3 linked regions of the Homo sapiens genome follow. The protein of the gene in region 2 purifies or fractionates together with the protein of the main gene of each other region. This does not show direct contact. Each region holds a gene or a part of one and is shown on either strand. Other genes may lie near its edges.

Region 1 (2,752 bases), on a different chromosome or scaffold from region 2:
CAAGCTGGGAACTTGCTGTCCCAAACCTACCCAGGCACAGAGAGGGACAGCGTGGAGCCAGGCTCTGGGGGCAGTGCTGGTGTGGCTCCCCGGAGGACAGGACTGGCTTCCCCGGTGAGCTCAAGCCCGAGCCACACCCTGCCTTGAGCTGCTGTCCCCTCCCCCCACGTCCAGCCTCACGGACTCAGCATCAGTGCTGAGGGCACTGGTGGCTCTGCCCAGTCCCCTCTGGGTGGCAGCTGCGCTTGGTCCCAGGCCTTCCGGTCTTACTTGTGCAGGACCGAGGAGTGGAGCCCTGCCCCCACCCCCGCAACCCCTACAGCCTGAGCTCAGCGGGCGGCTGACCTGCAGGAAGCACCCCGGGACCTTCAGGCCCAGCCTCCAGCACACACCCCCCTGCTAGGCCCCTCCCACTGTTGGCCTGTGGCACCCACCAGGGAGAACTGGGTCCAGGCTGGTTCCCTGTCCTTCCTCCTGCTTCCCACCCAGTCCCTGCACCCAAAAGAGCACCCAGCCAGCACCTCTCACCCCGAGGGACCCCACAGACAGGCGGAGTCACTGGGAACTGCTGAAGCTCTTTATGGAGAACCAGGAGAGGGGGCGCAGGGCAGGGGGAAGGCGGGGGGTGGTAGGAAGGGGTGCAGCCAGCCGCGTTCTGCAGGGGTGGGGAGCTTTTTCCATGTCCCTGTGAATGACGGAGGTGCTGGATGGTGCCGTCCTTGGGCTGCTGAGGAGCCAAGGTGTCCCCTGCCCTGGAAAGGGGGGGAGGGTGAGTGAGGCCAGGACAGCAAGGGTGGGAGGGGGATGCAATGTGGGGGCGCATGTGGGCTCTTGGGTGCTGCAGTGTGGGGGCCCATGTGAGCTCTCAGGGGCATGGTGTGGGGGGCACACGCTGCACTCTTGGGGGCTGTGATGTGGAGGGCACATGCAGGCTCTCGGGGGCTATGGTGTGGGGGGCACAGCAGGCTCTCAGGGGTGATGGTGTGGGGGGCACATGTGGGCTCTCAGGGGCATGGTGTGGGGGGCACATGTGGGCTCTCGGGGGCTATGGTGTGTGGGCACATGTGGGCTCTCGGGGGCTATGGTGGGGGTACACACTGGGCTCTTGAGGGTTACGGTGGAAGGCACATGCGGGCTCTCGGGGGCGATGGTTGCGGGGGCACGTGCTGGATCTCAGAGGCAATGGTGTGGGGGACGTGCACCGGGCTCTAGGGGGCTATGGTGTGGTGGGCACATGCGAGCTCTTGGGGGCGATGGTGTGGGGGGCACACACGGACTCTTGGGGGCTGCAGGTGGGGGCTCCAGCCTCTAGATTGGAGCGGATGGAGCAGGGACCACCCCCGCAGGCTGCTGACAGAGCTCCCTGCTGAGTGAAGTGGCATCAGGGTGACTGCAGGCCAAGGGGAGGGTGCGGGAAGGACAGCGATGCTGTCCAGGATTCTGGCTCTGCCCACACCTGGGCAGGTGACCTTGGGCGAGTCTCCAAACTCTGGTCCCCTTGTGCAGCCAGCAAGGGGCCCATCTGACACAGCGAGCACAGGCACGCCTGCCACTTTGCTGAATCTTTGAGCAACTTATCGGGTAAGTGGAGTCACAGGCATGGCCGAGGGTGAGGGGTGCTGAGGAGGAACCCGAATCTCCTGCCTGCTCCTGCCCATGTGACTGGGGGGTAGACACCGTCTCCACCAGCAGCCAGCAAAGGCGGGCTCAGCGCTGTGGGCTTCCCAGCTGCCCAGGAGTCACACCCAGGGCAAGAACGGAGTCTGACGCCCGAGCGTGGGCAGCTCAGGAGCAGAGCTCCCACCTGCCTGACCTACGTGGGGCATCTCCCACCCAGGTAGGAGTGGGATGGGTGGGAGAGACCCCATGGCCTCTGGAAGCACCACTGAGCCCCAGAACTGGATTTTCTCAAATGTCCTCTAAAGCTGTTCACTCACCCTAATCGCTCCCTGGAGAGCAGGTTTCTGCAGGAAAAGGAAGCACAGGCGTTAGGAGACCCCAGGAATGCAGTCAGGACCGGGGCCCCTCATCAGCCACCAGCTCCACCACCCCAGGAAGGACAAAGCCAGAATTAGACGCAGCACAGTTATGCGCCCGTGCAATGCAGCTCTGCTGATGTCCCCACGCGGGGACATGGGGGGCTCTGCAGGGCCATGCCTCCTACCGCTCTGCCTGGGGATGAGGATGCTCTCCGTGCTGAGTCCGCGGGCTCCTGCGGCTTTCTCAAAGTCCTCCAAGGCTTCCAGGTTGTTCTTGGGGTCTCTGCCTGTGGGTGCCAGGACGAGATGTGGGTGCTCGAGGCAGCACTGGGCCGACGGCACCCCATCCCAGTCTGGAGGCCTGAGCTGGGCTGGGGAAGGGGACCTCGCCCACCGTGGGGGGAATTGAACCCAGAGGCCCTCAGGCTGGCAAAGTGGGACCAGGGTGCCGTGCACGGCTGAGAAGGCTCCTGTGGCAGCAGAACCGGGAGAACGGGAAGGGCTCTCCATCCATCCCTGAGCATCTCCCGGAGTGAGGATGGACGGCACGACAGGCCCACCCTGGAGGAAGCGCCTCTCCCCTTGGGGGCACCAGGATCCCAATCCTCTGTCATTCGCACACCCCTGGCTCCAGGGAGAACTCAGGAGCCTTCATGGGCCTCGTCCTCTGACAGGGACAGCACTGATGAGTCACCATCTGTGGGAGGCACCGCGTCCGGAATTCAACCCCGGGAGCTGGAACGTTCTTTCCATGCAGACTTCTGCTCACATCC
Region 2 (3,651 bases):
GACGGCCAGTCTCCTGCGGCGGGGTGGGGAGGGGGACCTGGCTGCCCCCAGGTGGGGAGACAGAGCCACGCTTCAGAGCAGGGCCACTGGGAGCCTGGGGTCTGTCCCAGCACAGCCAACAGCTCGCTGGGTAGCCCGGCCATCCCCATGCCCTGGGCCTCCCGACTGGCACAGGGTTGGCATCACAAGCCCTACACCCACGTCCTGCCCAACCTGGCCATGTCTCCCCAGGGGGCTAACCCACGGGGCTGCTGGCTGCTCAAGGTCACACAGGAAGTGGCACGAGAGCTGGATATGGATCCAGGGCAGCTATGAGTGCTAGGAATACACACAGAGATGTGTGTGCACACACACGCATCACACACGAACACGGGTGCACACGTGGACACACATGCATCACATTCATGAAACAGATCCACACATGGGTACATGCACCACATACATGAACACGGTTGCACACACATGCATCACACAGATGTACACATGGACACACATGCATCGCACATGAACACAGATGTACACATGGACACATGCATCACGTGTGGGCACACATGCATCACATACACGAACACAGACACATGGACACGCATCACACATGTACACATGCATCACACGCATGAACACTGATGTACACATGAATACACATGCATCACACATCACATACATGAACAGACACATGGACATGCATCACGTGCACATGCATCACACACATGAACACAGATGTACACATGCGCACACATGCATCACGCATGGATACAGGCATCACATACATGAACACATGCACACATGCATCACACACATGCACACATGTACACACAAGCCTGCCCAGGACTACCAGCTTCTCTGGCTGACCGGAGCGCCTCTCCGCACACCCCAGGAGGTGGCACTACAGGTCCAGTCCCGGGGCCCCCACCCAAGGGGGAGGGCCAGCTAGGCAACCCGGGGGCCCCTGGGTCCCGTCCAGGAGTACCTGGGAGGCTGGGTCCTGGGCTGGCTGGGCGTGGGGTCCTGTCAGGCCTCACGGGGGTCAGGGTGATGTGGACACTCCCAGCAAAGCTGCCTGAGACCTTCCTGGGGGCCTCCCCCGCCCTCGGCTCTGCCAGGGCCCGTGGTTCCTTGGGCTTCAGAGTCCTGGGCAGAAGGCATGAGGTCGGAACCCGAACCACCAGCCCCAGGGCCTGGCCCACCTGGAGGGGCTCCCAGGCCATATGCAGACCAGCCGGAGGGAGCAGGTGGCCTTCTGAGCAAATGCCACCTCCCAGCCCACTGACTACACCTGCTGGGACCCTCCTGCAAACACACGTGTCCATCGCTACCTGCCGTGGTGCGAAGCAGATTCCAGGCGTGAGCTCCGGGCCCCACGGGACCCACACATGGGGAGACTCCACCCCAGCTGCAGGCATGGTGCGTGAACCCACACGGGTGCTGCCATGCCCAGGTGAGACACGCAACGCTGCCCCCAAACCAGGGACAGCGGCCCCCATGTCCCTCAGGCAGGGGTGACCTGGCCTCTGCTACTCACAGGGAGGTGCGTCTATCCCTGGATAGGCGTGTCAATCGGTCGATTACATACTCACTGCATTTATTAAGCACCTATGGTGTACCAGGCCCTGGGCCAGCCCCACCCATCCCTAACCTCTCAGCTGGGCTTCTCCTGTCCACGGGCTTCAGATTCGCTCTCCATCCTGCCGGCCCGTCCTCCTGGCCTTCCTGGAGGCTGGTGCTCATGTCTGGGTGGGAGGCAAGGGGTCTGGGTGTGAGGAAGGAGTGCTGGGAATGGGGTGTCTGCAAGGGTGGCTGTGCCTCCCCCTGCCATCTTCCCATAGCCACTCCACCCTCAGACACCCCCACAGCCAGCCGGCCGGGGGGCATCAGGAGCACCGGGCAGGGAGTCAGGGGAGGGGCTCCCAGCTGGCTCTCCTGTGCTGTGTGTCCCTGGGGGAAGCTCTCCCTGCCTCTGGGCCTCAACTTCCCCTTCTGCCGAATGGGTGGGGACGTGGCAGGGTGAGCCCCGTGGACCCTGATCCTCTGTCCACCTGTGCAAGGGGAACACCTGAGCCACGGCTGCCCGTCTGCAGGCTTTCTTGGCTCCTGGGTCCTGCAGGATCCAGCGCGTGGCTTTAACAATGAGAACTCAGCCAAAGAGAAGGATCTGGAAAAACCCTTTGCAGCCCAGCTTGTTCCCTGAGCCCAGCTCGATAAAGCCATGGGAACCTCTAGCTTTTTTCTACACACACCCAGGTGGCAGGGACAGCCAGTTTCCTGCAGTGGGGCGAGGCGGGGGGACTCGGCTGCCCCCAGGTTGGGAGACAGAGCCGTGCATCAAAGCAGGGCCGCCAGGAGCCTGGGGTCTGTCCTGGCACAGCTGACAGCTCACTGCGTAGCCTGGCCATCCCAGTGCCCTGGGCCTCCCAGCTGGCACAGGGTTGGCCTCACAAGCCCTAAGCCCACGTCCTGCCCAGCCTGGCCATGATCACCCAGGGGGCTAACCCCTGGTGGGTGACAGCCAGTTGCCTAGAAGAAAGCTCGCTCCCTGTTCCCGAAAACACGTGAGGCCATAAAACAGGACTGTGTGGTCCAGGGAGCCCCCAGGAAGAGCTCCCAGCCTAGGAGGCACCAGAGCCCTCAGGTCATAGGGCATCGTCACCAGACCACCACCGGGGGGGACGGAGCACAGGGCGCTCTCACCTGGACACCACCAGGGGGACAGGGCATACTGGGACACCAGCGGAGGGGACGGGGCATAGGGCACCGTCACCGGGACACCACAGGGGGGACGGGGCATAGGGCACCATCTCCGGTATGTGGTGACACAGGGTGCCACAGCAACAGCGCGACGTTGTCAAAGCGACAGGCAGGAAGCGCAAAACACCACGGGAGAACAGGAGGCCCCACAGACCACGGCCAAGCCAGGCCACTGCTAGCCACAGGATGTAACTGCCAGACCGAGCTGAGCGGGACGCTGCAGGGCTGGGCTGCAGGCACCTGCAGGACGTGCGGATGGGGTGGGCTGGGTGCCGGCAAACAGCATAGCCCTGAGGACATTTGCAGCCACCACACAGAGAGCGCACCAGGACCCCAGGAGGCTGCGAGCAGGTGTCACGGAGGACAGAGATGAGACGGAGAGGAAGGCGGGCGGGGCTGATGATGAAACCGCACACACTGCAGAGTGCGGCCAGGGGAGAGTCCCAGAGCTGCGGGCCCCCGGGGCCTCCTGCCTCCCAGCCCCTTACTCACCCTGCGTTAAGGTGGTGCTTTTACCCTTTGCCATCGGGGCCTCTGGCTTCGGCCTGGAGCCAGCACCCACCCTGCCGACCCCTGAGGATTCCGCCAAGTTCCTCCTGCCTGCCGGGGGCAACGCGGATGCCTGAGAGGTACTGCTCGTGCTCAGCGGGGCTGGCGGTTCCATCCTCGAAGGGAGGCCAAGCACCCGGGGAGACGAGGACTGTAACGGCTTGGCTAAGGGACTTGCTTGTGGTGCTTCAGTTTTGGGCTGAGAACTGGGAACAGCGGCAGTGGCTGGGGAGGGCCTATAAGTAAAAGCGCAGGCATCAGGCACAGCTGGATCCAGGCGCCCTCCCACCATCACCCGAGGCCGCCCCTCTGCCTCCCTGCAGCTCACTCCCAATGCCCAGCCTCCGGACGGACTCC
Region 3 (3,651 bases), on a different chromosome or scaffold from region 2:
TCTCAAGACTCAAAGTTTAAGATACACTGCCCTATAGTTCCTGGCCAAAAGCAAGCATACAACAGTGTTAAATCACTTTTCACCATTTTATCCTACCTAGAAATACCTTTCCCTCTCAGCACCAACACTGATATGTCAAACCAGATTATAAACGCTGAATAATGGGAATAGTAAAGAAACTGTTATACGTACTTACATACAAGAATAGTGGTTATATGCAATAAACAGAAAGTGGAGGAAACAGTATCTGTCACATACTTACAAGAAAGCCTTCTCAAAATTAGTATGGGGAAGTTCCAGGACTCAGTGGCACAAAGAGCTCTCTGTTAGTATTTCCTAGCTCAGGTTTGTACTAAGCAATAATGACGGCTAACATTTTCTGACCTTTAATGTGTCAAGAATTGTTTGAAGGCACTTACTATCATATATGCAGAAGAAACTGGGGCTGAAATACACCCAGAATCTGTGTCGTTAATCATTATATAAGATGGCATCCCAATGTATCAATACTTATTAATATTTGAGTAAACACTTAACTGAGTAAACATCTGATTATCATTCAGGATTCACATAATTCTAGTAGTTGGGAGTCCGAAATTCACAAAAGCTATTCCTTTCTGTCATCTAAAATCAGACCTCACTCTTTCTCACTGACAGGTTTGCAAGTTTCTCCCCCTCAGAAGTCTGGTCTCGGCCGGGCGCGGTGGCTCACCCCAGTAATCCCAGCAATTTGGGAGGCCAAGGTGGGCAAATCACAAGGTCAGGTGTTCGAGATTTAGTGAAATCCCATCTCTACTACTAAAAATACAGAAAATTAGCTGGGCATGGTGGCAGGCGCCTGTAATCCCAGCTACTCAGGAGGCTGAGGCAGGAGAATCGCTAGAACCCAGGAGGCGGAGGCTGCAGTGAGCCGAGACTGCACCACTGCACTCCAGCCTGGACAACAGTGTGAGACTCCATCTCGGAAAAAAGAAAAGGTCTGGTCTTTTTGTCTCGCTAGTTTGGCTCAAGTATTTGATAGTAATTTAAATAAAACGCTCAATTCAAACCACATTGAGGAAACATACAAGTACCTATAAAGATTCCTTCTTAATTTACTATTTAAAGTTTTAAAATACGTGATTACAACTGCTAGATATGACATTAGTGAAAGCTATGTAACACCCAATATACCTAACCTTTTATTATGAAAACTTAGATTTTGATTTCTCCAAATCTTGAGAATGAGAGGTAGGACTAGGGGGAAGGTTAAAATGGTGTCAGACAAGTCCAGTTATGCATCATTTACCAAAGGGAAACTTCCTGAGAGATGCACAGTGAGGTGATTTTGTTGTTGTGCAAACATCACAGAGTGGACTTACACAAACCTAGATGGTATAGTCTATTGCTCTTAGGCTACAAAGCATGATGCACAGTATGTTACTGTACTGAATACTGCAGGCTACTGTAACACAATGTGCTTGTATATCTAAACATATCTAAACACAGAAAAGGCACAATGTATATACAGTAATAAAGATAAAAATATTTTTCTTTCTTCAAGAATAAATTAACCTTTGCTTACTTAACATTTTTTACTTTAGAAACTTAAAAAAATTTTTAAACATTTTGAATTTTCTAGTAACGATTAGCTTAAAACAAAAGCATATCATACAGCTGTACAATATTTTCTTTATATCCTTATCCTATTAAGCCTTTTCCTATTTTTAAAAATATTTTTCACTTTTTAAACTTTTGTTAAAAACTAAGCCATATACACACACATTAGCCTAGGCCTACAGAGTCAGGATCATCAGTAACACTATATTCCGCCTCCACATCTTCACTGGAAGGTCTTCAGGGGCAGTAACATGCATGGAGCCATCACCTCCCAGGATAACGAAGCTTTTTTTCCTGGAATGCCACCTGAAGGACATGCCTGAGTCGGTTTTAACTAGTTTTTTAAAATAAGAATATATTCCAGGGCCCTGCGTAGTGACTCAAGCCTGTAATCCCAACACTTTGGGAGGCCGAGGCAGGCGGATCACCTGAGGTCGGGAGATCAATACCATCCTGGCTAACACGGTGAAACCCCGTCTCTACTAAAAATACAAAAAATTAGCCAGGTGTGGTGGTGCACGCCTATAATCCCAGCTACTCAGGAGGCTGAGGCAGGAGAATCACTTGAACCTGAGAGGCAGAGGTTGTGGTGAACTGAGATCGCGTCACTGCACTCCAGCCTGGGCAACAAGAGCGAAACTCTGTCTCAAAAAAAAGAAAAAAAAAAGGTAAATATATAACATAGCTGTTTATTACCATTATCAAGTATTATGTACTCTATATAATTGTGTTATACTTTTTTTTTTTTTTTTTTTTTTTTTTGGAGATGCAGTCTCACTCTTTCGCCCAGGCTGGAGAGCAGTGGTGCAATCTTTGCTCACTGCAACCTCCACCTCCCAGGTTCAAGTGATTCTCCTGCCTCAGCCTCCTGAGTAACTGGGATTACAGGCATATGCATGCCACCAAGCCCAGCTAATTTTTGTATTTTTAGTAGAGATGGGGTTTCACCATGTTGGCCAGGCTGGTCTCGAACTCCTGACCTCAAGTGGTCCACCTGCCTTGGCCTCCCAAAGTGCTGGGACTACAGGCATGAGCCACCACGCGTGGCCTGTTGTACTTTTACACAACTGGCAGTGCAATAGGTTTACACCAGCACTACCACAAACAAGAGTAATGCATTGCACTATGACATTATGCCTATGATGTCACTAAGTGACAGGAATTTCTCAGTTCCATTCTAATCTTACAGGACCACTAACTACCTTACATGAAGTCCACTGTTGACCAAAACATCATTTGACAGAACATATGACTATACTCAAACCAAGAAAGTGTTTTGGTCACCTTGCAACTGACCAGATGGGAACTTCTGTTACTTAGGGATATTCTGATTAACATTCTTAGAATAAAATTCCTTTATGGTGAAATATGCTATGTTAAAACCTCCCAATTATGCAAGGGTGGGCATGCATCAAAAAGCAAACGCTATTCCCTCTGGGATATGCACATATCATCAATATCTCCACTTGTCTTTGCACAGATGCAGGTAAATTTGGCAAGGGAGGGTTCTGAGGCCAGTGATGTTCACGAAGGTTATACATACTCTCACAAATCACTGTGCTCCACATGTGAATAGTGCAGAGGCAGAATAAAGGACAACTGCCCCCGCCCTTTTTCCTACTGTATGACAAGTACCCATCTAGACCAAGGACTGACTTCCTCTATCAAATCAGGAAAAAACTGGCTACTGGTTATTTATACTTGAATAAGCCTTGAAATGGCTATTTAAAGCTGCTAGAAGCAGTGGCTGCTGCCTAAGGGTATCAATCTGTATCCAATCACAAATCCTAGAAGACTCCACTGGGAATCCCCATCTACCACACCACTGCTAAACCTACTGACATTTACAAACTATTTCTTCCCCTTGCCTCCCTATATGCCACCAACATTCGAGAATAACCTTTCAGAAATACATAACAGAATTTAAGTCAGTATTTCTAAGAATCTTAACATTCCTTCATACCTGTATTACTTTACCTGTTAGAAATGTTTGAAAATGGGGCTGGGTGCCTGTAATCCCAGAACTCTGAGACTGGCCTGGGCAACAAAGTA

The links.
Region 1: the proteins of MICALL2 (region 2) and LCN1 purify together in Homo sapiens (affinity purification with mass spectrometry, with the first as the bait; one large-scale study listed by BioGRID). This does not show direct contact.
Region 3: the proteins of MICALL2 (region 2) and PPP1CB purify together in Homo sapiens (affinity purification with mass spectrometry, with the first as the bait; one large-scale study listed by BioGRID). This does not show direct contact.

The regions. Positions count from the first base shown.
Region 1 is NC_000009.12:135,524,344-135,527,095, reverse strand, and holds the end of LCN1 (lipocalin-1 isoform 1 precursor), read right to left. Parts: exon of another isoform or gene 2,594-2,752; coding exon of another isoform or gene 2,267-2,593; coding exon 2,165-2,266; coding exon of another isoform or gene 1,989-2,164; exon of another isoform or gene 1,965-1,988; coding exon 1,939-1,964; coding exon of another isoform or gene 1,938-1,938; intron 753-1,937; coding exon of another isoform or gene 579-752; 3' UTR 556-578; downstream 1-555. UniProt on the Homo sapiens protein: Could play a role in taste reception. Could be necessary for the concentration and delivery of sapid molecules in the gustatory system.
Region 2 is NC_000007.14:1,438,955-1,442,605, forward strand, and holds part of MICALL2 (MICAL-like protein 2), read right to left. Parts: intron 3,531-3,651; coding exon 3,238-3,530; exon of another isoform or gene 2,209-3,237; coding exon of another isoform or gene 1,731-2,208; coding exon 1,637-1,730; intron 1,132-1,636; coding exon 971-1,131; intron 42-970; coding exon 1-41. UniProt on the Homo sapiens protein: Effector of small Rab GTPases which is involved in junctional complexes assembly through the regulation of cell adhesion molecules transport to the plasma membrane and actin cytoskeleton reorganization.
Region 3 is NC_000002.12:28,758,231-28,761,881, reverse strand, and holds part of PPP1CB (serine/threonine-protein phosphatase PP1-beta catalytic subunit), read right to left. Parts: intron 1-3,651. UniProt on the Homo sapiens protein: Protein phosphatase that associates with over 200 regulatory proteins to form highly specific holoenzymes which dephosphorylate hundreds of biological targets.